Homo sapiens: one gene and its partners. The protein of the gene in region 1 interacts with the protein of each later gene in a biochemical or structural test. Each region holds a gene or a part of one and is shown on either strand. Other genes may lie near its edges. The genes, in order: ARNT, CALCOCO1, TRIP11 and GTF2F2.

What was found.
Region 2: the proteins of ARNT (region 1) and CALCOCO1 form a complex in vitro, tested with the Homo sapiens proteins (2 studies listed by BioGRID, with this or other methods).
Region 3: the proteins of ARNT (region 1) and TRIP11 form a complex in vitro, tested with the Homo sapiens proteins (3 studies listed by BioGRID, with this or other methods).
Region 4: the proteins of ARNT (region 1) and GTF2F2 form a complex in vitro, tested with the Homo sapiens proteins (one study listed by BioGRID).

Annotation. Positions count from the first base shown.
Region 1 is NC_000001.11:150,866,598-150,873,628, reverse strand, and holds part of ARNT (aryl hydrocarbon receptor nuclear translocator), read left to right. Parts: intron 1-7,031. UniProt on the Homo sapiens protein: Required for activity of the AHR. Upon ligand binding, AHR translocates into the nucleus, where it heterodimerizes with ARNT and induces transcription by binding to xenobiotic response elements (XRE).
Region 2 is NC_000012.12:53,724,439-53,732,341, reverse strand, and holds the start of CALCOCO1 (calcium-binding and coiled-coil domain-containing protein 1), read left to right. Parts: upstream 1-4,889; 5' UTR 4,890-4,938; exon of another isoform or gene 4,939-6,142; intron 6,143-6,582; exon of another isoform or gene 6,583-6,652; intron 6,653-7,075; 5' UTR 7,076-7,099; coding exon 7,100-7,255; intron 7,256-7,594; coding exon 7,595-7,697; intron 7,698-7,903. UniProt on the Homo sapiens protein: Functions as a coactivator for aryl hydrocarbon and nuclear receptors (NR). Recruited to promoters through its contact with the N-terminal basic helix-loop-helix-Per-Arnt-Sim (PAS) domain of transcription factors or coactivators, such as NCOA2.
Region 3 is NC_000014.9:92,037,060-92,044,502, reverse strand, and holds the start of TRIP11 (thyroid receptor-interacting protein 11), read left to right. Parts: upstream 1-4,443; 5' UTR 4,444-4,817; coding exon 4,818-4,956; intron 4,957-7,443.
Region 4 is NC_000013.11:45,116,604-45,123,513, forward strand, and holds the start of GTF2F2 (general transcription factor IIF subunit 2), read left to right. Parts: upstream 1-3,906; 5' UTR 3,907-4,052; coding exon 4,053-4,118; intron 4,119-6,910. UniProt on the Homo sapiens protein: TFIIF is a general transcription initiation factor that binds to RNA polymerase II and helps to recruit it to the initiation complex in collaboration with TFIIB.

The DNA of each region.
Region 1 (7,031 bases):
CTTAGGGTTAGTAATAGTGCTTGAACATGTTAATTGTGCTGGTGGCCCTGCAGTGTTTTTCAAGGGGACCACGTTCTTCTGCATTTTTCACTGTGGTGCTGCATTAGAAGAAGAGTAAAATATGGTTGGTACTCTCTAAGAGTTGTGTTGAAGTAATAGTTCTGTGATGATTTTTTTTCTCGAATTGATAATTCTTCATATTCTATCATTTTTCACTAGTTCTACTTATCACTGGCAAGTAGAACTCGGTGGGTAGGTGGTCCATGAAACTTTAGGCTGTTTCTTATCTATGGACTAGACAAGTTTTGTTTTGTTTTTTTTTTGTTTGTTTGTTTGTTTTGAGACAGAGTCTCACTCTGTCGCCCAGGCTGGAGTGCAGTGGTGCTATCTTGGCTCACTGCAAGCTCCGCCTCCCAGGTTCACGCCATTCTCCTGCCTCAGCCTCCCGAGTAGCTGGGACTACAGGTACCCGCCACCACGCCCGGCTAATTTTTTTTTTTGTATTTTTAGTAGAGACAGGGTTTCACCCTGTTAGCCAGGGTGGTCTCGATCTCCTGACCTTGTGATCCGCCTGCCTCGGCCTCCCAAAGTGCTGGGATTACAGGCTTGAGTCACCGTGCCCGGCCCGGACTAGACAAGTTTTGAGGAACACATTTTTTTTCCCCATAGGAGAGGGTCTTGCTCTGTCACTGAGGCTGGAGTGCAGTGACACAATCATGGCTCACTGCAGCCTTGACCTTCTGGGAGCATGTGATCCTCCCACTTCAGCCTCCTGAGTAGGTGGGACCACAGGTGTGCACCACCGTGGCTGGCTAATTTTAAATTTTTTTTAGAGACAGGGTCTTGCTATGTTGCCCAGGCTGGTCTTTAACTCCTGGCCTCAAGTGATCTTCCTGCGTTGGGCACTCCCCAAGAGCTGGGATTATAGGCATGACCACCATGCCCAGCCAAGGTGGAACACTTTTTAAATTGAATGTGTCATTTGTAATGCATTGGCTGAGGGAACAGTTGGGAGGAGATTAGGTATTTGATTTACAATTCCAAATTCAAACTAGAGATGTTGAATGAGTTTGTAGTAAGTGTAGGTTTTTATCTCTCTTGATTCTGGTATTCTCATTAGCAGAGAATTCTTTTTGTGCTATTATGTACAAGTTACTGTGGATGAAGAATGTAGAAGGAAAAGGGTAATACCGTTTGGGTTTGTAAGGCTGTCATTTAGGAAGAAAATTTTTTTTAGCTAATTTTCACCTATATAACTTAGTTTTAACTGCGTCAATTAACACAATTCTTACCTGTTACCTTTATTTACCTTTTTCAGATATGGGAAAATAGGAATTCATGCAATGTAAAGTTAAGATGTCAAGATATTCTTTTATGGCCAGGTGTGGTGGCTCGTGCCTCTAATCCCTTTGGGAGGCCGAGGCAGGCCGATTGCTTGAGCCCAGGAATTTGAGACCAGCCCGGACAACGTGACGAAACCCCTTTACTACAAAAAATACAAAAAATTTTCCGGGCACTGTGGTGCACTTCTATAGTCCCAGCTACTTGGGAGGCTGAGATGGGAGTATCACCTGAGCCTGGAAAGTTGAAGCTGCAGTGAGCTGTGATCATGCCACTGTACTCCAGCCTGGGTGTTGGAGTGAGACCCTGTCCCCCAACAAAAAAAGAGATAGTATTTTATTATATTGCAAAGGCCTTTTTTTTTTTTTTTTTTTTTTTTTGAGACAGGGTCTTACTGTGTCGCCCAGGCTGGAGTGCAATGGCGTGATCTTGGCTCACTGCAACCTCCGCCTCCTGGGTTCAAGCTATTCTCCCGCCTCAGCCTCCCGAGTAGCTGGGATTACAGGCACCTGCCATCACGCCGGCTAATTTTTTATTTTTAATAGAGACAGGGTTTCTCCATGTTGGCCAGGCTGGTCTTGAACTCCTCACCTCAGGTGATCCGCCCACCTTGGCCTCCCAAAGTGCTGGGATTACAGGCGTGAGCCGCCATGCTCCGCCGCCATCTGTTTTTAAGAATGCTGCCTTGGCCGGGCATGGTGGCTCATGCCTGTAATCCTAGCATTTTGGGAGGCCGAAGTGGGCAGATCACCTGAGGTCAGGAGTTCAAGACCAGCCTGGCCAACATGGAGAAACCCTGTCTCTACTAAAAATACAAAAATTAGCCAGGCATGGTGGCAGGTGCCTGTAATCCCAGCTACTCGGGAGGCTGAGGCGGGAGAATCGCTTGAACCTGGAAGGTGGTGGTTGCAGTGAGCTGAGATCGTACCACTGCACTCTAGCCTGGGCGACAGAGTGAGACTCCGTCTAAAAAAAAAAAAAAAAAAAAAAAAACCACGACTGCCTAATATGCCATAATGACTTTAGTAAGTAGACATCAGTGAATCTTCAGGTTGGAAATATGACAACACCTATCATTTTACACTTAAGGAGACAAACCCAGGGAAAGGAGTGGATAATTAAGTTCCTTCTATATGCCAGGCTGCACTTTCCTATTTTGTTGCTAATCTTTATGTCTAGTCTGTAGCAACTGTCTCCAACTTTTCACATAAACTCTTCAAATTTATGTCACTTTTCATAATTTCGTCAATGTATTTTCTTGTTTTAAAGTTTTTATTATTTTAGATAGTGACCGGGTCTCACTATATTGCCCCGGCTGGTCTCAAACTCCTGGGCTCAAGCAATCCTCCTGCCTCGGCCTCCCAGAGTGCCGGGGTTACAGGTGTGAGCCACCCTCTGAGGCCCATTTTATATTTTCCCTCCACGTTTTCATTGTAGTTGAATGGACAAGTAAGTTTATGGATTCAACAGTATACTTAGGGCTGGACATGGTGGCTCATACCTGTAATCCTAGCACTTTGGGAGGCTGATGTAGGTGGATTGCTTGAGCCCAAAAGTTTGAGACCAGCCTGGGCAACGTGGTGAAACCCCATCTGTACAAAAAAATACAAAAAATTAGCAGGGTGTGGTAGCATTCCCTGTAGTCCCAGCTACGTGGGAGACTGAGATGCGAGGATGACCTGAGCCTGGGAGGTTGAGGCTGCAGTGAGCCATGATTGTGCCACTGCATTCCTGTCTGGGTGACTAGGAGACAGAGTGAGACCCTGTCTCAAAAAACACAACAAAACCAGCATACTTAGGATATAAGTTCCATGAGAGCAGAACTTTTGCTTTCCTTGTTTACCAGAGCATTGCAGTGCTTACAGTGGGTGCCTAGTATGTTGGATTAGAGTTCAATGTATGTTTGTGGAATAAAAATGAATGTAAAACCCACTGTTAATATGAAATACCTTTGAAGGGATAAAACTAATTAAGCCATTGACATCATGAATTTGTACTAACTATAATAATATCTAATATTTATTAGTAATACTTACCAGCTGTTCTCATTTAATTTTTATAACAATCGTATTAGGTAAGTATTATTATTCTTGTTTTACAGATGAGGAAACTAAGGCACAGAGAGTGAATAAGTAACTTGTCTGAAGTCACATAGCTACTAGAAGTTAGAGACAGAATTTTATTGTTGGCAGTCCATCTACACAGTCATCATTCTTAATCTCCAAGTTATGATTTTTTCCATTGTGACTTAGAGTCACCTTCCTACTGAAATATAGTACAATGGATATCTTTTGAGAAGGAGGTAGGTGGAGTATTGTCTTTTTTGTAGATGAAAAGGGTGAAATACCACATTAGGCAGCCTGGGGGCAAGGCATTGCTTGGTTGGAGAACCAAGTGCAAGGTGCTAAAAAAAGGAGCTAGAACAGTAGTTTCCAGGCTGAGTGTGGTGGCTCATACCTGTAATCTCAGCACTTTGAGAGGCCAGGGTGAGAGGATTGTTTAAGCCCAGGAGTTGGAGACCAGCCTGAGCAATATAGGGAGACCTTGTCTCCACAAAAATATATATAAAAAAATTAGCTAGATGTGGTGGTGGATGCCTATAGTCCCAACTACTTGGGAGGCTGAGGTGGTGGGAGGATCTCTGAGCTTGCTAGGTCAGGGCTGCAGTGAGCCATGATCATGCCACTGGACTCTAATCTGGTTGACAGAGTGAGCCCCTGTCTCTAGGAAAAAAAAAAAAAAAGGAGTAGTTTCCTAAAATCTTTTCTGTAACATTCTATAATTCTTCATTTTGTTTTGTTTTGTTTTTTTGAGACTGAGTGTCCTTCTGTCACCCAGGCTGGGGTGCAGTGGCACGATCTCAGCTCACTGCAAGCTCCGCCTCCCAGGTTCACGCCATTCTCCTGCCTCATCCTCGCGAGTAGCTGGGACTACAGGCATCCACCACCATGCCCTGCTAATTTTTTGTGTTTTTAGTGGAGATGGGGTTTCACTGTGTTAGCCAGGATGGCCTCGATCTCCTGACCTTGTGATCCGCCCACCTCAGCCTCCCAAAGTGCTGGGATTATAGGCTTGAGCTAGCGCGCCCAGCCTAACATTCTATATTTCTTTCTCCTAGTTCTATGTTTCAATTCTTTAAATACTTTTAAGGGTTTTTTTGAGACAAGGTCCTGTTGTGTCAGCCAGGCTGGAGTGCAGTAGCGTGACCATAGCTTCCTGCAACACCTCCAATTCCTAGGCTCAAGCGATTCTCACTCCTCAGTTTCCTGAATAGTTGGGACCATAGGTATGCACCATCATGCCCAGCTAATTTTTTAATTTTGTAGAGACAGGATCTCGCTATGTTGCCCAGGCTGGTCCTTTTTTTTTTAAATTTTATTATTATTTTTTGAGACGGAGTCTTGCTTTGTCACCCAGGCTGGAGTGCAGTGGCGTGATCTCGGCTCACTGCAACCTCTGCCTCCCGGGTTTAAGCGATTCTCCTGCCTCAGCCTCCTGTAGCTGGGACTACAGGCACGTGCCACCGCGCCTGGCTAATTTTTGTGTTTTTAGTAGAGACGGGGTTTCACCATGTTGGCCAGGATGGTCTCGATCTCCTGACCTCGTGATCTGCCCACCTCGGCCTCCCAAAGTGCTGGGATTACAGGCGTGAGCCACCGCGCCCGGCCTGCCCAGGCTGGTCTTGAACTACTGTCCTCGAGTGATCCTCCTGCTGTTGGCCTCCCAGATTGCTGAGATTACAGGCATGAATCATGCACTGCAGCTTTTAGGATTGTTATTAGAATCCTCTACAAGTTCTTGATACTCCATAATTGAGCCTCTCCTAGAAACTTGGTTTCAGAGACACTGTTGCTAGGTCTTTATCACTGATTGTTCCTTCTTTGTCCTTTTTGCTTATCTTTCTGCTTGTTTCTTTCTCTTGTTCAGTATGCTTCTACTTTTCTCTTCTCACCCTTGAGGCTAGGACTCTTCTTTGAGACAGGGTCTTGACTCTTTTTTGAGACAGGGTCTTGCTATGTTGCCCACGTTGGTCTTGGATTCCTGAGCTCAAATGATCCTCCCACCTCTGCTTCCTGAGTAGCTGGGATTACAAGTGTACACCACAGTGCCCGGCTTGGGGCTAGAACTAAATAGTAAACCAAGCAGTTTCCTTCATTTCTTCCCATTTGCCCACCTACCTGCCTTTCTAGCTGCTTGCCTTCCTACTTCAATTTGACATTCACTTGGTACCTACCATAGTCCTCTTCCCTTTGTATTAGTCCATTCTCACACTGCTATAAATAACTACCTGAGACTGGGTAATTTATGAAGAAAAGAGGTTTAATTGACTCATAGTTCCGCAGGCTGTATGGGAGGCAGGGCTGGGGAGGCCTCAGGAAACTTGGAATCATGGCGGAAGGCGAAGGGGAAGCAAGCATGTCTTCACATGGCTGGCAGGATAGAGGGAGAGAAGGGGAAGGTGCTACACACTTTCAAACAACCAGATCTCTTGAGAACTCTATCATGAGAGAGCATTAGGGGAATGGTGCTAAACCTTTGGAAACCACCCCTATGATCCAATAACCTCCCACCAGACTGCACCTTCAACACTGGGGATTACAATTTGACATGATATTTGGGTGGAGACACACAGAGCCAAACCATATCACCCTTTATTTATCTTTTATGTATAAAAGACTCCAAAAATTTCATTCCTGGCTTCTCACATAAACTACTTTCCTATATTTTTATCTATTTAAAAGATATCTCTCTCTTTTTCTTTTAAAGTTGAGACAGGGTTTTACTATGTTGCCCAGGCTGGTCTTGAAATCCTGGGCTCAAGCATTCCTCCCACTTCAGCAACCTGAGTAGCTGGACTACAGGTGTGTGCCATTGTGCCTGGCTGCATCTCTGTTTGAATAGTTTTTTTTTTTTTTAATTTATAGAAATGAGGTCTCACTGTATTGCCCAGACTGGTCTTGAACTGCTGAGCTCAAGTAGTCCCCCCATCTTGGTCTCCCTAGTAGCTGGGATTATAGGTGTATGACACGATGCCCAGCTCTATTTGAGTAATCTGTTTTTTTTTGTTGTTGTTGTTTTTTTTAAAGACAGAGTCTTTCTGTGTTGCCCAGGCTGGAGTGCAGTGGTGCGATCTTGGCTCACCGCAGCCTCCGCCTCCTAGGTTCAAATGATTTTTGTGCCTCAGCCTCTCGAGTAGCTGGGACTACAGTGTGCCACCACGCCTGGCTAATTTTTTGTATCTTTAGTAGAGATGGGGTTTCACCATGTTGGCCAGGCTGGTCTTGAACTCCCGTCCTCAAGTGATCCACCTGCCTTGGCCTCCCACAGTGCTGGGATTACAAGTGTGAGCCATTGCGCCCAGCCTCTATTTGAATAATCTTTAACATCCTATATATGTATGTACTCACCAGTATTTCCTTTAAATCTGCTGTTCTTCCTACCTTTCTGTATCTTTCATCACTATCACAATTCAGTTTTTCATTTCCCCAGGCTAAGGAACTATAAGTGTTTGGATTTTATTTTTTATGTGTTTATCTGGGTTATTAACTCTTCTCAGGTCTTTTGCCAAATATACGTGTGTGTGTGTGTATATGTATGTGTGTATACATACATATATAAAAGTTATTTAAATCAAAACTATACATCCATATATTAATATTTAAAGACTTAGATAGTTTTATAAAATGTTT
Region 2 (7,903 bases), on another chromosome or scaffold:
TCAAACTTTGCGCTAAAATTACATCAATGTTTTTCCTACTTCCCACAGAGTCCACAGTTTGGAAACATTCAGAACAGCCTACAATATCTGATAGAGCTGCTTCTGAGTGTTTGTAAAGCACCCAGCAGAGTGCCTGATACATGGCAGACACTCAGTACTATTAATAACACTGGCCATCATTATTTTCTCAGAAAGCATCTTGTTATATTGGGAAAGGTATAGGTTTCAGAATAAGATTGTTCTTAGAGGCTTTTTTTTTTTTAGACCGGTCACATTCTCGTCGCCCAGGCTGGAGTACAGTTGGTGCATTCATGGCTCACTGCAGCTTTGATTTCCCAGGCTCAGGTGATTCTCCCACCACAGCCTCCCGAGTAGCTGGGGCTACAGGTGTGCACCACCACACCTGGTTAATTTTTGTATTTTTAGTAGAAACAGGTTTTGCCATGTTGCCCAGGCTGGTCTCTAATTCCTGTGCTCAAGCAATCTGCCGGCGTTGGCCTCCCAAAATGCTGAGATTATAGACATGAGCCACCGCGCCCAGCCAGTAAGTTACTCTTAAAGTCTCAGTCTCTTCATCTGTAAAATCTGGATAGCACCTTGCACAGTTATTGTGATGATTCAATGGGTGAAAGAGCACCTCTCACATAGTAGGCACTCAACTAGTGGTAGCTCCTCAAAGCATTCCCAGAGTCCAGGGCCAGCTTCCATTAAACATTTATTATGTGGTGGGCACCGAACTACATGAGGCAATACCAGAATTAGGACTTTTGCAAAAGAGAAAAGAGACAACATTTCAGGGAAATGGATTCACTTTTCAGCAGCTCCTTCCCAAGTTCTACGGAGCCCTTCGACAATCATGGCAGTCATCTCCCTTCCCCAGACGAGTTAAACTATATTCTTAAAAAAAAAACAACAGTCCCCAAATCTCCCACTCTCACTCAGAAATATTCTTTGATCCCAATAACTGTAACTTCCACCTGTCTTCACAGTATTATTCCCCTTTTTCAAAAAATCTTCAGTGACTAACTTCCCATTCCTGATGGGAGTGAAGTCCAAACCTTTGTACATGATGTATTGATGAGGAAAACAGTAGCTACTATAAAAAATAAACCCATTTTAGCAGTGTAACAAAATTGAAATTGATTTATTGGTCAAGTGAAATCTGAAACACATGATCCTGATTAGTGGTCCGCTCTCTGCCACGTGATGATTCAGGGAACCAGCTTCCTTCCATCCTGTGGCTCCACTGTCTTTAACATGTGGCCTTCAGGGTCACTGTGCCTAAGGTCATCTTCATCAAGCTAGACAGGAAAAAAAATAGGAAGGAACTTTTTTGGAGGGTTTTATGGGCCAGACTTGAAAATGGAACACATTAATTAAAGGAGAAGCTTAAAAATGTGGTATAGCTAGGCCGGGCGCGGTGACTCTTGCCTGTAATCCCAGCACTTTGGGAGGCCGAAGCGGGCGGATCACGAGGTCAGGAGATCGAGACCATCCTGGCTAACACGGTGAAACCCCGTCTCTACCAAAAATACAAAAAAATTAGCCAGGTGTGGTGACGGGCACCTGTAGTCTCAGCTACTTGGGAGGCTGAGGCAGGAGAACGGCATGAACCTGGGAGGCGGAGCTTGCAGTGAGCTGAGATGGCGCCACTGCACTCCAGCCTGGGCGACAGAGCAAGACTCCGTCTCAAAAAAATAAAAAAATAAAAAATAAAAATAAAAAAATAAAAAAATGTGGTACAGCTGTGTGTCCAAGAAAAAGAAAGAAACAGGTTCTGATAAACACATAGGCTCTGGCTCACTTGACATTCAAAACTCTCTATACTCTGGCTTAAGTCTGTCTTTCCAATTTTATCTTCCATTATCCAATTATCCAACTGTAGCTTCTTTTTGTTGTTGTTGTTGTTGTTGTTGTTGTTTGTTTTGTTTTTTGAGACAGAGTGTCACTCTGTTGCCCAGGCTGGAGAACAGTGGTACCATTCTGGCTCACTGCAACCTCTGCCTCCTGGGTTCAAGCGATTCTCCTGCCTCAGCCTCCCAAGTAGCCGGGATTACAGGCACGCGCCACCATACCTGGCTAATTTTTGTATTTTTGGTAGAGATGGGGTTTCACCAGTTGGCCAGGCTGGTCTTGAACTCCTGACCTCAAGTGATCCGCCCACCTTGGCCTCCCAAAGTGCTGGGATTACAGGAGCAAGCTACCACGCCTGGCCTCCAACTGTAGCTTTTATTCAGCTTTGCTGCAATCACAACCTACCCCAAAATCTAAGCGACTCACAACAACCAGTGCTGGCTTCTGATTTATGTATATGCAGGTTGTGGGTAAGCAGTAGCTCAGCTCCACAGGTCTTCTCATTCCCAGGCCCAGGCAGAAGGAGCAACTCTCATGTGGATTATTCCCATTCTAGTGGCAGAGAAGAACAAGAAAGTGGAAACTCATGTGTTCAAACATGGCATGAGTCACATCTGTTCACATCCCATCAGCCAAATTATGAAACATGACAAAGCCCAAAGTCAATGACATGAGACATCTATTCCTTCTACAGGAGATACTGCAAGTCACATGGCAGTGGGCAGGAATGAGAGAGGAAATAATTTCAAACAATTAGTCCATCCACTACAACTGCCATTTTCCATCTGGAGTACATGGCAGACATTACTACCCAGCACTCTTTCCTCAGAATCCTCAACACAACATTTCAGGCAGACATTACCAATAATCTGAGTTTGCCTAAATACATAAATAAAGGTTGAAATTGATGTGCTATTATGTGACTCTAGGCTCATTATCCATTCCCACCTCCAAATCTTTGCTTTGGCCTAGAAGAAGCTTACCCTCCCCAGTCCCCATCTTGCCAAACTATCCAAATTTAATCTATCCTTCAAATACTTGAATATTTGAAAGTAATGACTATAATTAAAATAATGAATTACATTTATTATTTTAAAATAATGAATTACATATATTATTTTAAAATAATGAATATTTACTATTCATTCTTTCAATAAAAGTAACTGAATACCTAGCATAGTACCTGCCACATATTTGTTGAATGAATCTGTTTCACATTACTTTGTGCCTTGCACTGAGCACATAAATGCTCAGTGAACATTTGTCTCCTGTTAATGAACCAGCACTGTTCCTTAGAACAATGGGAGTTAGTATCACATGCCAGAGTTTCTGGACTGGGAGTATGGTGACTGCTTGTGCTTAAATCTTGATTCTGCCACTCACTAGCTGGATGACTCCAGGCAAGTCATTAATTGTGCCTCAATCTCATCATGTGTAAAATGGGGATAATAACAAGGCGTATTACATAAGCCTGTTGTATTAAATGGGAAAATTCTTAGCATAGTTTGAACAGATCATAAGCACCCAAGAAATGGAAGTTGTTACCATTTTTAGCTCCGAGACTGTTTTCTCGTAGACCTTTATTTTGGGCGGAAGACAAGAGCCAAGAACTCTTGAGACTTGGGTCCTTGAACAGACCTCACTCTTAACCCACTCCAGACCTTGAGCTACCTCCTCATCCAGAAACTGGTTCCCTAACTCATAAATCCTGACTAATGACACAGACACATCACCTTAATGTTTGTGCAGCCCAGTAACTAATTTTTAAGTGCCTGGAGATCTTCAGATGAAAGACACTGAGGGCAGACACCGCATTCAGTCATAAAAGCAAAACACTACCAAAAAACTTGGAAAAGGCAGAAGCTCCATAACTTAGTGCAGTAGAGAATTAAAGCAGGCACCTAGGAAGAGGAAATCAATCCTTAAGACTGTAATCCTTTAATGCAGAGCCAGAGAAAGAGGTAATTCTGAATGCCTCCGACTACAGGGATGGAGAATAGCGAGAGGGGGGACAGGATGCCCAAGTCTATAACGTGACTTGGGGTGTGGGAGACGTGTCAATCTTTCACCTCTCCTAAATAAAAACCGGAACGTCAACATGTATTGTTATCCTAATTAATTTAAGCCACTTAAAAGGCTTGGGCAAACAGGCCCCATAAGTGGCTTGTTTGTGAATTGTGACAGGTCCTGAATTATGCCAAGCTCCCTTTTCAATTTCATTCTTCTCATTCCACCGCTCCTACCACCACCTCAGTCAATTGTATCCTCTTCCTAGACCCAGAAGCCACTCTGGGGGAGCCCAGTCCAGATGTGGATATGGTCAGGCCCCTTAGCACTGAAATCCTCAAGTTGGAAAAAAATGGTCAGCTGTGCAGAAGACATCATTCTTACAAGGTCTGTCCCTGAGATTGAAGTAAAGAAGAAACTGCTATACCCCAGCTATCAGTTTCCCATCCCCAAAATGGTGGGTAGCTGTGGTGTAGTGGCAAGAATATATGACGTGGAATTAGCCAAGGCTAATGCAGTTCTACATTTCATAGCTTTGACACTTCACACCGCCTCCTTAACCGTACTTCACTTTCTACATCTATAAAGCGTGCATAACGCTTAACGCCTATCTCACAGGTGGGTGCGAAAAGTACAGGACGGGACGCAACAGAAACCGCTCTGCCCACCGTTAAAGCGTTATATGGAAGGCTTTAGAGCCGTAAATCCTCCCCAGCCCCCAACAACGCACGTTACAAACCAGCAGCCACCCCTAATGCAGCCGGCCCCCTCCTAAGGGATCATGGGCCTTGAAGTCCTTTGCTGGCCACACCCTCGTTTTCTGTCATAGGAGTGAGAACTACGCCTCCCAGGATGCCGCGGTGAGGCCGCCGTCACGGACGCCCTCTTCCCCGCCCTCCTTGCGCGCAGCCTTCTGGGATGTATAGTCCTAGATCCGAGCACGCAGCGGCAAAAGGGCGCAGAAGAACCACAAACCCCAGAAGCCCTCGCGCCCACTCTTCTCCCTCCCCTCCAGAAGTCGGAGTGCTGTTTTTGTTGTTGGTGAAAGGTGAGGGGAACAGCTGATCCGTCTGTTGGGTAAGAAACTTGGCCTAATTGGGGGCGATCTTATGGGAGGGGAGGGTCACCCCACTTTCCAGTTTGGGGAAGGATAACGTAAGGGAACTGTCGAAGGGGAATACAGGAGCGTTTGGGTTGTAACCCTTTCCGTACTGGAGAAGCCACCCCCGCTGTTTGGGGAGTTCTTGGTTTCAAGGGGACTCTGATTGGGGGTGGGGGGCGCCCCCTCGTCGTCCTCTCCTTCTTCTCAATGCGTCTCTATAAAGCTGATCCCTTCAAGGGAGCTGAAATCTGCTTATTCGCTCCCAGGCAAGACGTGTCCCCTACACGTCTTCCCTCTCTCCCCTACGCAAATCCAAAGGCCTTTACGACGCTGAATCCCTGGGGAGGAAGGGGGACCTTCCAAGGTGTAGAATGTCAAGGAACTCTAGAGCCCTACAGAGTAGGGGATGGGACACCCGCTCTCCGCCCCATCATGTGAACATCTGAATCAGGCTACACACCTACATCTTAGGTGCCCAAAACTTTCTTTCGGACATGAAGAACGTTTACAGCTGTTACGGATTTTCTTTGTGGGGTGTATTTTAGGGTTCTCCAGGTATATCTTTGGGGACAATTTACCCCCACCCTTAGAAAGCTGGAAGAATTGCATTTGGAGAAAACATGGATTAGTTTCAACCAGGAATTTTTCAGGGAGATGAACATTAAAAAAAACTTTTTGTTCTACCTATTTGGGGGACAGAAGTTGCTCCTTTTTGTGTTGCTGGCTCACCTTTATCCACTGAGTTTCTGTTTTCTTTTAAAGTTCCTGTCCCCTGGACTTCAGCCTGGTGTGGGTTTGTGATGTTTGGGGGCGTGCATATGACTAGTGACAATGGCTGGTTGGACATGTCAGCTGTGAGTGACACAGGAAATAGATTAGTGGGCTGGAAAGGAGTGATGAATAAGAGGGCCATCTCACAGCCCTGGACTGAGGAGTTCTTTTGATCGTTATTATTGTTATCTGTCCTCACCCCACCCTCATATTTTCCAATTAACTCTCCCCAGCTAACTTGGAACACCCCTTCCTCTCAACCCCATCCTGTAGTGTGTCTCCAGCTACCAATACAAACAGATGGAAGGATGGAGGCTGAGGGGAGCAGAGAGAAAATGAGGAGAGAAATACTAAAGTGAAACCAGTAGGTTTCTAGTCCTGCTGCAGGCACAGTCTGGAGAGAAGAATGTTAGGTTCTTTTTGAACTATCTCCCCTTTCCTCAACGTTAAATATACATTTCCACTTCTTGGGGCCCCTTACTTCCCACTTTCTAGTCTGTTCCCTGCCCTGGGGTGGGGCTTTCCTGGCTCCAGGCCCCCACATTCCATCTCCCCACCCCCACCACGTTCCTGCTAAGCGCCTCACTCCACCCTTGAAGTTGCCGCCTCCAGAATTCTTGACTTCCTGGAATAATAAGTCAAGGGACAGAACCTGTCTTTCCTTATATCCTCCCCTTCCCTTTGTCTCTTGGATGCCAGCAGAAGCTTTCTGCTTCCCTAGAATTCATGGGGGTAGGCAGCTCAGAGAGATGAAAAGAGCTGAGAGCTCAGGAGCCTAAGGATTTGGGCTCAGTTCCCCTCGACCCCCAGCCATATTCTAGCTCTGAAAACTCAACCATTCCTTTCAGAGATTAGTTGCTGCTTTCTGATGTCATAACTCATTCCTGGATACAGCTGGGTCAACAAGCTTAGGAGTAGGTAAGGACACCTCTCTCAATGAGAGGGCCCCACACCTCAGTTGGATTTTGTATTCAAGAGCCAGGATGTGTGGGAGATGGGATGGAGAAATGGAGGCTGTCGACCAAGTCGCAGTATCCCAGGCTCTGTCCCCGTCAGTGTCCTTTTGGGAGCAAAATTAGAGAAGTCTGAACCCTCAGAAGGGTCTATGAGCCAGAGCGGGTACAGTGTGAGACAGGATGGGGACGGACTTGGAAGGCCAGACCTACGTCCTAGAGACTAAGAGTGATACCTCAAAAATGTCCCGTAACCCTCAGGGACTAGAAACCAGGTATGCCTTATCTCCAGGTGTAGTGGCAGGGGCTGTGAGTGTGTGGTGCTGGAGCTGTGGGGGGAAGGAGGTGGACTGGAAAGACTTTAGGCTATCAACCCTTTCTTTCATAGGAGGACAGATATCTCAAGGCCAGGATGGAAGAATCACCACTAAGCCGGGCACCATCCCGTGGTGGAGTCAACTTTCTCAATGTAGCCCGGACCTACATCCCCAACACCAAGGTGGAATGTCACTACACCCTTCCCCCAGGCACCATGCCCAGTGCCAGTGACTGGATTGGCATCTTCAAGGTATCTCTGGAACCCCTTTTGGCTTAGGTTTATGGGCTGTGAGTTGGTTGGAATAAGGGGAATGATTGGGCTCTTGGATTCTCAACCTCAGGTTGATAGAGAAGAAGAGAGAAAGATGTCACAGATGACAGAGGCCGCCTGTATAACCAAAGCACATATTTTCTCCATCTTAGCCTTGTTCTTTACTGACACATTAGTGTCCCTCCACTTTCCCTTTCTCTTGTCATTGTTGCCACTGTAGCTCCATCCTGCCCCCCTTATTCAACCCCTCAGCCCTTTCTTCCATCCATAGAAGGTAGTTCCATGACCATACCTTTCTCCAACCTTGGGCTTTCACAGGTGGAGGCTGCCTGTGTTCGGGATTACCACACATTTGTGTGGTCTTCCGTGCCTGAAAGTACAACTGATGGTTCCCCCATTCACACCAGTGTCCAGTTCCAAGGTACAAGGGAAGATGGAAAATTGGGAGAGAGGAGCCAAGGGAGTGGAGGTTTGAAAGAAGGTAGTGGGCTCAGAAACATTAAAAGTTAGGCACAAAGGACAAGGAAAAATAAACGAAAATAAATATAATGAGAATATATCCAACAGCGCTCAGCGGATAGAGAATCACGGGATTATCGCAGAATCAGGGACATAGAAACAGAAGGA
Region 3 (7,443 bases), on another chromosome or scaffold:
GCCCTAATCTTGTTTACATTGCCTGTTTACACTGTTTCTCTAAGCCATCACAGCTGGTATCTCCTGGTGCTATCCCCAAACCGCCACTCTTAACTCCCTCTTAGAGTGGATAGATGATATTTGCTGGCAGGGCAACCTCCAATATTTTCACTCTGATGAAGTTCTATTCTTTACTTTTATACTCACTCTTATTCTCATTCCCATTCTTATGCCACCCTCTACCTCTCCCCAGCTATCTCCACCACACTATCAATCTTACTCTCTCCTAGCCGTTTCTAATCCCTCCTTAGCGAATAATTGCTGGCTTTGCATTTCCCTTTCTTCCTGCACCTACACAGCTGCCCCCGCCTTATATACAGACTGGGCAACATCTCCTGTCTCCCTACACCTCCAAATTTCCTTTAACAGCCCTCATCTTTACCCTCCTGAAGAACTTCTTCACTTTCTAGACAGGTCCAGCAAGGCCTCCCCAGACATTTCACATCAGCAAGCTGCCGCCCTCCTCCACACTTACTTAAAAAACCTTTCTCCTTATATCAACTCTACTCCCCCCACATTTGGATCCCTCACAACACAAACTACTTTTCCTGTGGCTGCTCCTTTATGTATCTCTCAGCAAAGACCCACTGGAATTCCCCTGGGTAACCTTTCACCTTCTTGATGTTCATTCACTCTTCATCTCCAAAGCCCAACTACACACATCACTGAAACAACTGGAGCCTTCCAGCTCCGTATTACAGATAAGCCTTTTATCAATACAGGCAAACTTAAAAACATTAGAAGTAATTATTGCTTAGGAAGACACCCTGTATTTCACTCCATCCTTGGCTACCTTCCCCTTGCTCGTCAGACCCTCCTCCCAGGCCTTCTTGTTATACCCAGCCCCGTAAATAACAGTGAAAGGTTGCTCATAGACACTCGACGTTTTCTCATACACCATGAAAATTGAACCTCTCCCTCTACACAGTTACCCCATCAGTCCCCATTACAACCTCTGACGGCTGCCGCCCTAGCTGGATCCCTAGGAGTCTGGGTACAAGACACCCCTTTCAGCACTCCTTCTCATCTTTTTACTTTGCATTTCCAGTTTTGCCTGGCACAAGCTCTCTTCTTCCTCTGTGGATCCTCTACCTACATGTGTCTACCTGCTAACTGGACAGGCACATGCACACTCATTTTCCTTAATCCCAAAATTCAATTTGCAAATGGGACCAAAGAGCTTCCTGTTCCTCTCATGACACCGACATGACAAAAAAGGGTTATTCCACTAATTCCCTTGCTTGTCGGTTTAGGACTTTCTGCCTCCTCTATTGCTCTCGGTACTGGAATAGAAGGCATTTCAACCTCTGTCACAACCTTCCATAGCCTCTCTAATGACTTCTCCACTAGCATCACAGACATATCTTAAACTTTATCAGTACTTCAGGCCCAAGTTGACTCTCTGGCTGCAGTTGTCCTCCAAAACTGCCAAGGCCTTGACTTACTCACTGCTGAAAAAGGAAGGCGCTGTGTGTATGTGTGTGTGTATATATATATATATATATATATATATATATTTTTTTTTTTTTTTTTTTTTTTTTTTTTTGAGACGGAGTCTTGCTCTGTCACCCAGGCAGTGGCGCATCTCGGCTCACTGCTCACTGCAAGCTCCACCTCCTGGGTTCATGCCATTCTCCTGCCTCAGCCTCCCAAGTAGCTGGGACTATAGGCGCCTGCCACCACGCCCGGCTAATTTTTTGTATTTTTTTAGTACAGACAGGGTTTCACCATGTTAGCCAGGATGGTCTCGATCTCCTGACCTCATGATCCGCCTGCCTCGGCCTCCCAAAGTGCTGGGGTTATAGGCGTGGGCCACTGCGCCCGGCCGGGCTCTGTATATTTTTAAATGAAGAGTGTTCTTTTTACCTAAATCAATCTGGCCTGGTGTATGACAATATAAAAAAACTCAAGGACAGAGTCCAAAAACTTGCCAACCAAGCAAGTAATTATGCTGAACCCCCTTGGGCACTCTCTAATCGGATGTCCTGGGTCCTCCCAATTCTTAGTCCTTTAATACCTGTTTTTCTCCTTCTCTTATTTGGACCTTGTGTCTTCCGTTTGGTTTCTCAGTTCATCCAAAACCATATCCAGGCCATCACCAATCATTCTATATGACAAATGCTCCTTCTAACAACCCCACAGTATCACTCCTTACCACAAAATCTTCCTTCAGCTTAATCTCTCCCACTCTAGGTTCCCACACCACCCCTAATACCGCTCGAAGCAGCCCTGAGGAACATCGCCCATTATCTCTCCATACTACCCCCCAAAATTTTCACCACTCCAACACTTCAACACTATTTTGTTTTATTTTTCTTATTAATATAAGAAGACAGGAATGTCTGGCCTCTGAGCCAAGGCCTGCATGTATACATCCAGATGGCCTGAAGGAACTGAAGAATCACAAAAGAAGTGAAAATGGCTGATTCCTGCCTTAACTGATGACATTACCCTGTGAAATTCCTTCTCCTGGCTCAGAAGCTCCCCCACCAAGCACCTTGTGACCCCCCCGCCCCTGCCTGCCAGAGAACAACCCCCTTTGACTGTAGTTTTCCACTACCCACCCAAATCCTATAAAACTGCCCCACCCCTAACACCCTTTGCTGACTCTCTTTTGGGACTCAGCCCACCTGCACCCAGGTGAAATAAACAGCTTTATTGCTCACACAAAGCCTGTTTGGAGGTCTCTTCACACGGATGCCCGTGACAAGTGCCTGCCACCACATCCCACTAATTTTTGTATTTTTAGTAGAGATGGGGTTTCACCATGTTGGCCAGGCTGGTCTTGAACGCCTGACCTCAGGTGATCCACCTGCCTCGGCCTTCCAAAGTGCTGAGATTACAGGCGTAAGCCCCTGCACCCGGCCCTGTTTTTTTTTTTTTTTTTTTTTTTTACATCCCGGAGTCACACTGGATATCTGAATGTGCTTAAAATAAAATTCACATCTCATTCTGGAAGTGTTTATTAAATGCTGTCCCTGCATTCATGTGAACATCACAGCCCAGCGGTTAGATGTGCAGACTCCAACGCCTGACTGCCTGGGTCTGTCACTTACTAGCTGTATGACCTTGGATGGGTTACTTAACATTTCTGGGCACTGGTTTCTCATTAGTAAAATGAAGAATGGGCGCCTGTAGTCCCAGCTACTTGGGAGCCTGAGGCAGGAGAATCGCTTTAACCCGGGAGACGAGGTTGCAGTGAGCCTAGGTCCCGCCATTGCACTCCAGCCTGGGCCACAGAGCGAGGCTCCATCTCAAAAAATAAAATTTAAAAAAAAAAAATTCAGCTTTCACGGAGAATTACTACTGCCTGGTGCCATCAGATCCCAAATACTGGAGGCATTCCCAATGTTCTGTTCACAAACTGTGCAATCTGTGATAGCCCCTCTTGTGAATATAATCAAAGTGAAAGATGCCAGTATACTTATTGCTATGCTTAAAAGAACTGCAGATCTATCATATCCTTTTGAAACCAAAAAATGTGGAAGTCTCCCTGGCTAGATGCTGTGTGTCCACGTATCCTGCACCAATTGCTTGAAAGTCACATGACAACCTTTCTTCCTTTAGGGAAGGAAGCAAGCAAGGTAGGACTCTGTGTGTTACAGCCAGTGTGGGTAACTAAGGACTGAGGGAGGTGTGGGCACTTGCATAGCTAGTGCCGCCAATACCATAGGAGCGTTGACACTAAACGGCACTTCTCTATTAAGTTGCCCTGCTGTCTTCTAACGAGTCATTTTGAAAAACGGTTGTCCGTTTTTCAACTACTTGGGTGAGGGCAGCTTCATGAAAAAAGCTCATCGTATGTTAAAGAAGGTAGGGTTTCAATTGTGAGCTATAAAGCCACCAGAGGAGATTTCTCCTATAGAAGGAAGGTGTGTTTCCTGCTTGGACACCTGAATTTGCAACCCATCCTTTCTTTTTTCCTTTTTCCTTTTTTTTTTTTGCAACCCATCCGTTCTATCTTTGTAGCCTCAGCTCCTACCATAGTGCCTGTCACGGAGCAGCTAATCGACACAGTGACGCGTGTAAGTTATTTGAAGCCACTTCCTGCGCAGTGGAACGTCCCCGCCAAGTCTCCCGGCACTGCTGGGTGTAGTCCCAATTAAAACACTAGGTTTCAACAACACAAGGAGGGTCCGCAGGGTCCCCGGACTACCCACCAAGGGTCGGCTCTGCTTTGAAACGCAGCTGCAGGAGGCCGAGGAGCGCCGCGATGCCCCAGTTATCCAGGCCATTCCTTCCCCGGCCGAAGCTGGCCGCCTGCATGCACCTAACCTTGCGCTAGGCACTGGCTGCGGTTAATCCAGCCCGCGCTCGGTCCTCCGCGATCCCAGCCTCCCTTGCGCCAAGGACACGTCCGGCGGCTTCGCGGGGCCTGTCTACGCCACCGCGGCGCTTTTCTATGATCCGCTGCCGCTTTCCGAGCGAGTGTCATGGCGGCCGGCGTCGAGTTGGCAGGAGTAACCCACGGAACTGAGGAAAGTCATTAGAGCTGAGAAAGAAGTGGCCCAATCTGGACGGTGGGAATTCGTGGGAATGAGCAGAAGGCCCTCCGTAGGTGACTGTGTCACTAGAGGCGGGCCCCTGGTAAAATTCCAGGCCAGGCCTCTGCGTTTCTAGGCAGAACCTGGAGTCGGCCTTGCCTGAGAACCCAGCTTTGTGTTATCGTATCCTGTCTCGCGAAGGCAGGCGTTCAAGGATATTTGGTCGGATCGCCCGGCGGCGCTAAACGTTTTCTTTTTTCCGAGCGGACCGGGTCGTTCTCTAAACTCGCCGCGATGTCGTCCTGGCTTGGGGGCCTCGGCTCCGGATTGGGCCAGTCTCTGGGTCAAGTCGGGGGCAGCCTGGCTTCCCTCACTGGCCAGATATCAAACTTTACAAAGGATATGCTGATGGAGGGCACGGAGGAAGTGGAAGGTAACAGCTGGAGCGAGGGAAGGGAGGGCTTTTCTAAGACCCTGGGAACGTCCGTTTGGTCCCTACTTCCATCAGTCAGGAGACGCGGACAGGTCGCAAAGGAATGCTGCTCCTCCCTTTTTTCTTCACACACCTCCTCTTGCCTCTTCTCAACAGATTTTCTATGATGAAAGACCACTGGGGGCCAGGGGAAGAGTCCTGGTTCTCCTCTCTTTAAATATTCTGGATATCTCAAAGTACAGTAGAGTGAAACTGCTCCTACGTTAAGTCGAGTTTATTTTCGTTTGGTTGATCCACGCCCACCACTTTGCCCTCAGTTTGGGGGCTGATCTCATTCTTAACATCTTCCTGTATTCTGACCCAGTTTAAAGAATTGTATATCTGTTTTCTATTTTTGTAACAGTTGAAATAACTCATAATTTAAACACTTGGTGAGTTTTGCTCTTTTCTGTCTTGAGTATGTTATGAAACACGGCCATGTTTTTCTATTTAATTATTTTTTACTTTTCCTTATTGTGATGATACATTATAGCGTTCCAGCTGAGAATGTATTTTTGTGTATAATCGCCCATTTCGCCCATATTTCGACAGTAGAATAGGGAAGACAACCCTATTCTTAAGGTACCCTTAGCAATCTTCACTCATTTTTGAAGTCCTCAATCTCGTTTTACTAATGAATAGTGACCCAGAGTTACATGGTAATCAATGGCTACATTAGTTACTATCCATTAATTACTATTTTGATTTCTTGGCATTTTAGTAAGCAATGTTTGGATCAAAACAGTTTTTAAGTTTCAATCTAAGTCTGCTCCAGGGAGATAATGGGCTGTTCTTTTGGGTGAGAGCTGCTGCTTTGACAATTGTATTTCTTATAAATAAATTTAATAAATTAGTATTCTGGCTTAGTTTTTTTTTTTAATTGCTAATTTAACAGATCCTTCATATTTATTTGGTAGAAATCGGGAAAGATTGTTTGATAGAAAGATAATGCTTATGTTTTGAATTTCTGTGGGGTCTATTTAGATGGAAGGAAGAATAGACTGGGGAGCTACCGAAATCCATTTTACCGCTTTACGTTCCCCATGCCATAAAGGTGCATCAGTGAGACAGCTTTGGGGATAGAAATGAAAGGGCTTCTTTATGTGTGGGGGAAAGCATGGGACCTTGAGGGCAGTCAGAAGCACAGAAGGGCTGGATAACTATGGGAAATGACTGGTCGCTCCTTGTATCCTAGATAGGGGAAAACGGTTGGCTGTTCCTTAGACCCTAAGCCAGAGAATATGCATCCCTCAACCTGGATGTCTTCCAGGTTTAAGGTGGTGTTCATTTTGTTCTCCTGCCAAATGTGCTGTTTTCTCATTCTTAATAGCTTCACTCTCAGTTTCCTAAACTGTAAATCTTCGTGTCCTTGTTTTATGTCTTTTTTCATCTCCTACTTCCAGTTGGTCATGATATCTTGTTTATCCTATGCCAGAATTGTCCTTTGCTTTATTACTCCTTATTCTTTAGATCCCTATAATCTTTCCCAGGGACTATTCCTCTTTCATGTCCTGTCACCCATTTCTCCCTACCCCAGTCCATTTTCTATTGTATTGTCAGTTACTTTCTAAAAACAAACCTGCGTAAAAATTTCTTGACCCTGTTACAGAATAAAATCCAAACCTCTTAGTTTTGGACTGAGTCTCACTCTGTTGCGTAGGCTGGATGCAGTGGCGCGATCTCGGCTCGCTGCAACCTTCGCCTCCCGGGTTCAAGCAATTCTCCTGCCTCAGCCTCCCAAGTAGCTGGGATTACAGGCGTGTGCCACCACACCTGGCTAATTTTTGTATTTTTAGTAGAGATGGGGTTTCGCCATGTTGGCCAGGCTGATCTCGAACTCCTGAGACCGCAGGTGATCCTCCTGCCTTGGCCTCCCAGAGTGCTGGGATTACAGGCGTGAGCCACCGCACCCGACCTTCAATGTACCTTTTCTAGTTGCCATACCAGTTGCTGTACATGTGCACATATATATGCTTGCTTGTACGCACAGCTTCTGTCGTGTGGGATTTTGTCAGGCACTTACACAACTTCAAGCCTCTACATGGAAAGCCCTTTCTTCTCTATTTCCTCCTTCACCCAGAAAACAATTCTCCTGTACAACCCTGCTCATATGTCAGGTACTTAAGTACTTGGTGAACCATTCTGACTCCCACACAGGTTGAGTTGTTGAGTTGAATGTTGGTGATCTGTGTTCTAACAGAACTTTGTGGATCTCTCCCTGACAGCATTTAACATGTTGAGTTATAATTTATCTGTTTTCCTGATGCCCAGCGTGAGGACTGAATTTTTTTGCTCCTTATATTACCAAATATGTGACACCTTCCTTTTGGCACATAGTAGATGCTCAATAAAAATGGCACAAGTGCGTGATTAGAAATCTGCAAAGTTGCTTAATGCCTTTATTCTTTCCCCTTTGTATTTCAATCGGACTTGCTTAACACCTAATTT
Region 4 (6,910 bases), on another chromosome or scaffold:
ATTCTATGAAGGAGGGAACTGTTAGGGTTGAAGGGAAAGGCAGGGAGAATTCAGAGACGTTTTATAGCCTTGGTGTCATAACGAAGCAAAATTATCTACCTACTACATCACTGATGTCAGGGAAATTGAATGAATTACCACAATGCTGTATTCATTTGTAATTTTTGAATGACAATGTTTATGTTAGTAACCAATAGGTAATGAGTCTGGTCTATTAAGAAAGACCTGGTGGTAGCATTTTTTGCCTATATGAACTCTCCTGGAGGTAATACTTTTTCTTGCTAGAATGTTTCTGAGTAAGTGTGAACAAAGAAAATCTCTGGCCTGAAGAGATCAGGCCTGTGTATGATAGACAAGGACAAAATCTGAAAGTGAACTCAGCTATCTGTTAAAGTCATTCTAATTCCCTCAACTCACTTGTAACATCTCGCCTAATGGCTTTGCTGCTTATTCTCTAATAGCTACCTGATAGAATTGTGGTGTTCTGAATTAACAAGGCATGAGGGAATTCTAGCTGTAAGGCTTTCTGGTAAATTTTTTCACGTGTCTCAGACTTTGGAAACTGGCCCAGTTCTAATGAACTATATTGATTAGAAAAATATCGATTAGAATTCTATCGATTAGAACTCTATCATTTAGAACAATGATTCTCAGATTTTGGTGTGCCTAAGAAACACTCTGGGAGCTTGCTAAAAGTGTCAATTTCTAGACTCACATCCAGAAAGTCTAATTTTGTTTGCCTGGATTGGGGCTCAGGTGTCTTCATTTTAAAACACATTTCCCCCAGGTAATTCTAATGCAACTTGTACAGGAACCAGAGGCTGAGAACACTCATCTAGACTGAAGCATGTTTTGTGGTGGGTGTGGTGTTAGGGGTTTTTCTTGCTGCAGCTAGTCTGGAAGACACACAAAAAAGAACGTAGTTCTGCCTATTAAGCAGGTTGGGGCTGGGCATGGTAGCTCATGCCTGTAATCCCAGCATTTTGGGAGGCTGAGGTGGGTGGATTGCTTGAGCCCAGGAGTTCAAGAGCAGCCTGGGCAACATGGTGAAACCCCGTCTCTACAAAAAATACAAAAATTAGCTGGGTGTGGTAGTGTGCACCTGTAGTTCCAGCTACTTGGAAGGCTGAGGTGGGAGGATAGCTTGAGCCCGAAAGGTCAAGCTGTAGTGAGCTGTGATCATGTCATTGCACATTCCAGCCTGGGTGATAGAGCAAGACTCCGCCTAAAAACAAAAACAAAAACAAAAACAAAGCAGCAAAGAAGGTTGGGTGGCCTTGAGGTCTGACCTAGAATCTAAGCCCTAGATAAAGATGGAGGTTCAAGTTGGCCTAAGCACTACCAGACTTTTTGGAAAAATTGCAGCCAGCAATGAGTTCTTGGGCCCTCCTTCCTAGAATTGCATTTGCGCCTTAAAAATTTTGGTAACAACTTGACTAGTTAATCATCTGAGGGAGTAAAAAATTTTGGTGTTACCTTCTCTGGGGCACTGACTTCTGCATCCTATGCTCTGTGAGCCCCATCCTGGGATATGGTCTCAGCTCTTGGATGTTGATATGTTTAATGACATATAGGGCTATATTGAGGAAAAATAATACCTACTCTGGCAAATTGTTATAAGGATTAAATGGGATAATACAGAAAATAACTAGCTGAGGATCTGGCATATAATGAGTCCTTAGGAAGGTGAGGGATCTGCCTGTAGTATCTATCCACCTTAAGGGTCTCCACAGTAAATCTGTGAATTTGGTTCATAGGGGCCATGCCCTCCTTTTCTATCAGGGTTCTGTAAACATCCCTCTTCAAGCTAGAAGGGGTTTGAAAAGGACAGACAGGAGAAGCTTGCTCTTTGTTCAACAGCGTACGAGGAAGAGGTGCTCAATACGTTGTTTTTTTCTTTCTTCTATGTATCATTTTAAAATCTCCACTTTTCCGTTCTTCGCTAGCCCTTTCATCAGCCATTTTTTTTCTCTCTCAATCTCTGTGTACACACACATACACACATACCCACACCACGTACACATTTTAAGGCCTCCCATGACCCAGAGACCAAAGCCAGGGTTCCAATCTTTAAAGTCCATTCCTGGGGTGCTCTAGACTTTGCTTCTCTTCTCCCATGGTCTCATATTTCAATTTATTCCTTCTCCTTGATTAAAGTTTAGAGCAGTTCCCTTAATCTGCTTACTCTTTATATGTTTTAAAAAGGCCCTTTTCCAAGTTGTTGCACAAGAAGAAACCTTCATTTTCTGCTTAAAAAAATTTTTTTTTGTTTTTCTTTTTTTTTTAGAGATAGGGTTCTTCCTATGTTGACCAGGCTGGTCTCGAACTCCTAGCCTCAAGTGATCTTCCCATCTCGGTCTCCCAAAGTGTTGGGATTACAGGTGTGAGCCACTGCGCCTGGCCAAAAAAATTTTGTTTTTAGTATTTATTTTTTAGAGACAGGACCTTGCTCTGTCACCCAGGCTGGAGTGCATGGCACGATCATGACTTACTGTAGCCTTGAACTCCTGGGCAGACACAATCCTCCCACCTCAGTCTCCCAAAGTTAGGGTTACAGGGTTGAGCCACTGAGCCTAGCCTGAAACTTTCATCTTCAACACACTCCTGGTCTCTCCCATCTTTCCTATTAGTTTTCCTAGCTAAAAGCAGAGTTCTGACAGCTTTTCCTGGCCCTATGCTGAACACACATAAAATTTCCTCAATTTTGTGCAAGGCTCTGATGTGTGATTCAATAAATTACTTGCCATTCTTAACAATACCTTACTGTTTGTTTCTCTTCAGCGAATGTTCTTTCACCCAAAGCCTACTGAAACCTGACAATGTGTTAAACACTGTGCTAGACATTGTGGATATAAAATGAATAAAGCACTATTTTTTATTTGTCAATTATACCTCAATAAAGCTCTTTCCGCCTAGGAGGAGTTCATTGTCTGGAAAGCAAAGGCAGATATGTAAACATATATATTATAGTTCAGAGTGCTAAGTATCACACTGTGATGTGAAGAAAAACTAATTTCTTCTGGGGAAGTTGATAAAAGATCTCATAGGAAGTGACATTTTCATTGGTCTTGAACCATAAGTAGGAGTTTGCCAACCAGAGCACAGGGGTGAGAGTGAGGGCAGGGGTAAAATAGGGCTTCCAAGGGAAGGGAATCCAGTGTGCAGAGGCTCTGAAATGACCGACGAAGATTCTGACGTGTTTAGGGAAGTCTGCTGGGTTTGATGTGGTTTGGTGCATGGCGGAGTGATGGTGGGAGGTGCAAAGAGATGAAATTGAGAGGGCCCAGTTGAAGCAGGAGGATTGAACTTTATTCTAGAGGCAATAAGAGAAAGAGAAAACTGTTTAAGCAGGGGAGGAAACGATCAGGTTTGTCTCTTACTTGTTCGTTTCGTTACAGACTTCCGGGTTTTGGAAACTGAGGTGCTCCGCTTGCTTCATCAGAACAGCTCGGGTAGCCTCTGAGCTGAAACACGGCTTTTTTTTTTCCAGGTCTAGAAACGGCATGTTTTCAATATACCCAAGGCTACTAAGTTTGATCCCAGTGCCCATTTGTGCTAATGACGTTGGCCAGGGACGCCAATTTACTACCCTGACCCTGTCCTTCAAATATTGTCTCTCTCTCCTTGGCTAGGGTTGGACATGTTCTGACACCTTTCGTCTCTTTGAACCCCATTTTTCCGTTCTGATAATCTTTTTCTTCAGTTATGCTGACCATGTCTTTAAATACATTGCTAACGTTTTAGCTCATCCCACCCTACGTTTTAATCCCTCAGATGCAGACATCGCGGACAGCCACGCCCACTCAAGAAATTTCCGAAACAGAAAGTTTGTCTGCAACAGCGCGCCGTACTGACGTAGCAGTGCGCAGGCGCAGTCCCGGCTCCTGGCGGCGTGTTCCTCTTTTCCTCGGTTCCCAGTGTTCTGGCAGGTAAGGAACGCCGGCTCTTCGCCTCTCAGCGCGGCTTGTCCTTTGTTCCGGACGCCCGCTCCTCAGCCCTGCGGCTCCTGGGGTCGCTGCTGCATCCCGCACGCCTCCACCGGCTGCAGACCCATGGCCGAGCGCGGGGAACTCGACTTGACCGGCGCCAAACAGAACACAGGAGTGTGGCTAGTCAAGGTAATGTTCGCGAGTCTCCCACTTGCGCTCCTCCTAACACAAGTATAGTTTAAGTAACTTGAGCCTATCCCGCTCCGTGCGCCTCTTAAAGTTCTTTTACGGCTATCTCGTTAGAGCTTCACACATTTTGAGAGGCAGGAGTCATTGTTGTATCTGTTTGCAGACGAGGAATTAGTTTAGGGACGCAAAGTGTCTTTCAGCCAGTTACTACTCTGAATCTGCCTGGACTAGATCTCTTTCTCACGGCTTTCCTGGAATCTTGTCTTGGTGTCCCCAGATTTGGACGGTGCATTTTATCCCAGACTGAAGAATTCCTTGTATCTTCCCTTGGTGAAACTGGTTTTAGCCATGAGCCTGCGTGAGGTAGTTGAATGTCTACTTTCTGTACAGTTTTCTCGGCCAGAAAGTAGGACTGGTCCCTGCCTACTCTTAAAAGTGTTCTCTTAGGTTGATGGTCCTTAATGAAGCTCTCAAAAGAGGCGAGAGAGCCCCAAACTCACAGAAGGAGAGGTCATTGGACTGGAGTATTCTTTTAGAGCACATTTGGGTCTCGTGAAACTGGCCGTCAATAAACGTTTTATGTGAAGACAGCAATTTTGGTTAGCTCACAGTAAGCACTATTTGTGCTTTATTGTTTCATATTGGGGAGTGTTTTCTCCTAGGGGAGTTTCATAATACTTAAGCATATTCAAAATGTGATCCTGAAAGTCGTTGAAACTTAAAATGTAAGGACTTTTGGTTTCTTAATGCTTTAACTGTTTTATCACATGGCTGAGTTCTCGTCAATTAAATCTAAGAGGTCTTTCTTGTCGGCCTTCCTAAAACAGCCCCCTTGTGATCATTTGCTAACACGACAGATGTGTATTACATTCTTCAAAGCACTTTTCACAGTGTAGAGTGATTTTGTGTTCATATGTTCAAAGTTGGTTACCTCTGTCTTTCCAACACACAGAATCACATTCCATGAGAACAGGATCTTTGCCTGTCATACCCAGAATAGTGTTTGGCGCATGGTAATTACTCAACAAATAGATGATGAATAAATGCATGACCTCTCATTCTTCAGCCCTCGCCTTAGTCTGTGGCACTCATTTGACTTATTTCCAAACTCAGTGTGACTTAAAAGGATGGATTAAATAGGCATTTCTCTCTCCAGCAGCATGTTACTTGGGGGGAGAGTCACTAAGGAGGAGATTGCCCTTACGGACTGAAGGAAAAAGCTTGAAAAAATGGTGTGACTTGAGATGGTGCCATTGTCCTAGGAGCATGGTAAATGCTCAATGTTTGTCTTACAGGATTTGGATGGGTGGACACAGTGTATACCATGGGGAATGGAACAGAAATGCAAGACTCAAAATATATAATCAGCATGGCGTGTTGTGGAAAACAGAGAGAACCTAGAGCAGAAGATCTGTGTAGATGAAGATGGGGACCATATACTCAGATTGTCATATCATGAAACGGAGATATTCTAACTTTAGTTTACAAGGAAGTAACGAACTTTTTGGAGGATTTGAGTGAGGTAGAGATGCCAGATATTTATTCAGGAAAAAAAAAAATGTTTGGCAGTGTGCAGTACGAATTAGAGGGGAGGGTAACCAGAGTCACAATTAGAAAATTATCACAGGATCGGGCTGGGCATGGTGGCTCACGCCTGTAATCTCAGCACTTTGGGAGGCCGAGGTGGGTGGATCATGAGGTCAAGAGTTCGAGACCAGCCTGGCCAATATGGTGAAACCCCATCTCTACTAAAAATACAAAAATCAGCCAGTCATGGTGGTGTGCGCCTGTAGTCCCAGCTACTTGGGAGGCTGAGGCAGAAGAATCACTTGAAACCGGGAGACGGAGGTTGCAGTGAGCCGAGATTGCTCCGTTGCACTCCAGCCTGGGCAACAGAGCAAAAATTCCTTCTCAAAAAAATAAATAAATTAAAAAAAAGTGTAATTTGTTGCTTAGAAAGTGTATCTTCATTCTCATCTAATCAGAATTTGAATTGAAGTACATATTGATTTCAAGTTTTTTCTCCTTACATTAATTTTCCTATTAAAAATAATACCTTGAGTTCTGATCTTTGTTGCTAAATAATGTTTCTTCCTAGGATATCTCACGGTTTATAGATCATCTTGTACATATTTAATTCCATCACTAGACAGGTATAGAACTGTGTAAATACAGTAAGAACTATACATACAAGATCTCTGAGAGTTTTGAGCGGGAAAAAAATTAGTGCTTCACCAGAACTGGGAAGACATCATAAAGAAGGTGACGTTTAAGAAAAGCCTATTTGGAGGTTGCAGTGAGTCAAGATTGTGCCACTGCATGCACTCCTGCCTGGGCGACAGAGTGACATCCTGTCTCAAAAAAAAAAAATGGATGTGAGTGTGATCTGTCTGGGACATCTGTCACCCCATTGATTACTAGGGTTGATTTGGCTAATCTGGCTGGCTAGGCGGGTGTCTCCTTCCTCCCACACTGCTCCATGTATGTCCCTCCCGAAGCTGCACGCTTGACCAAAGAGGATGACCATCCGGATAGAGGAGGACTGGTCTTCAGTCAAGGGTATATGTATGGTTGTACTCCCCTGCTAGAACCTCCAAAGAAGCTTTCAAGAAGAGCTTATGGCAGGCCGGGTGCAGTGGCTGATGTCTGTAATCCCAGCACTTTGGGAGGACGAGGTGGGCGAATTGCTTGAGCCCAGGAATTTGAGACCAGCCTGGGCAATATAGCAAAACCCTTTATCTACAAAAACTATAAAAAGTTAGCTGGGCGTGGTGGTGTACGCTTGTAGTCCC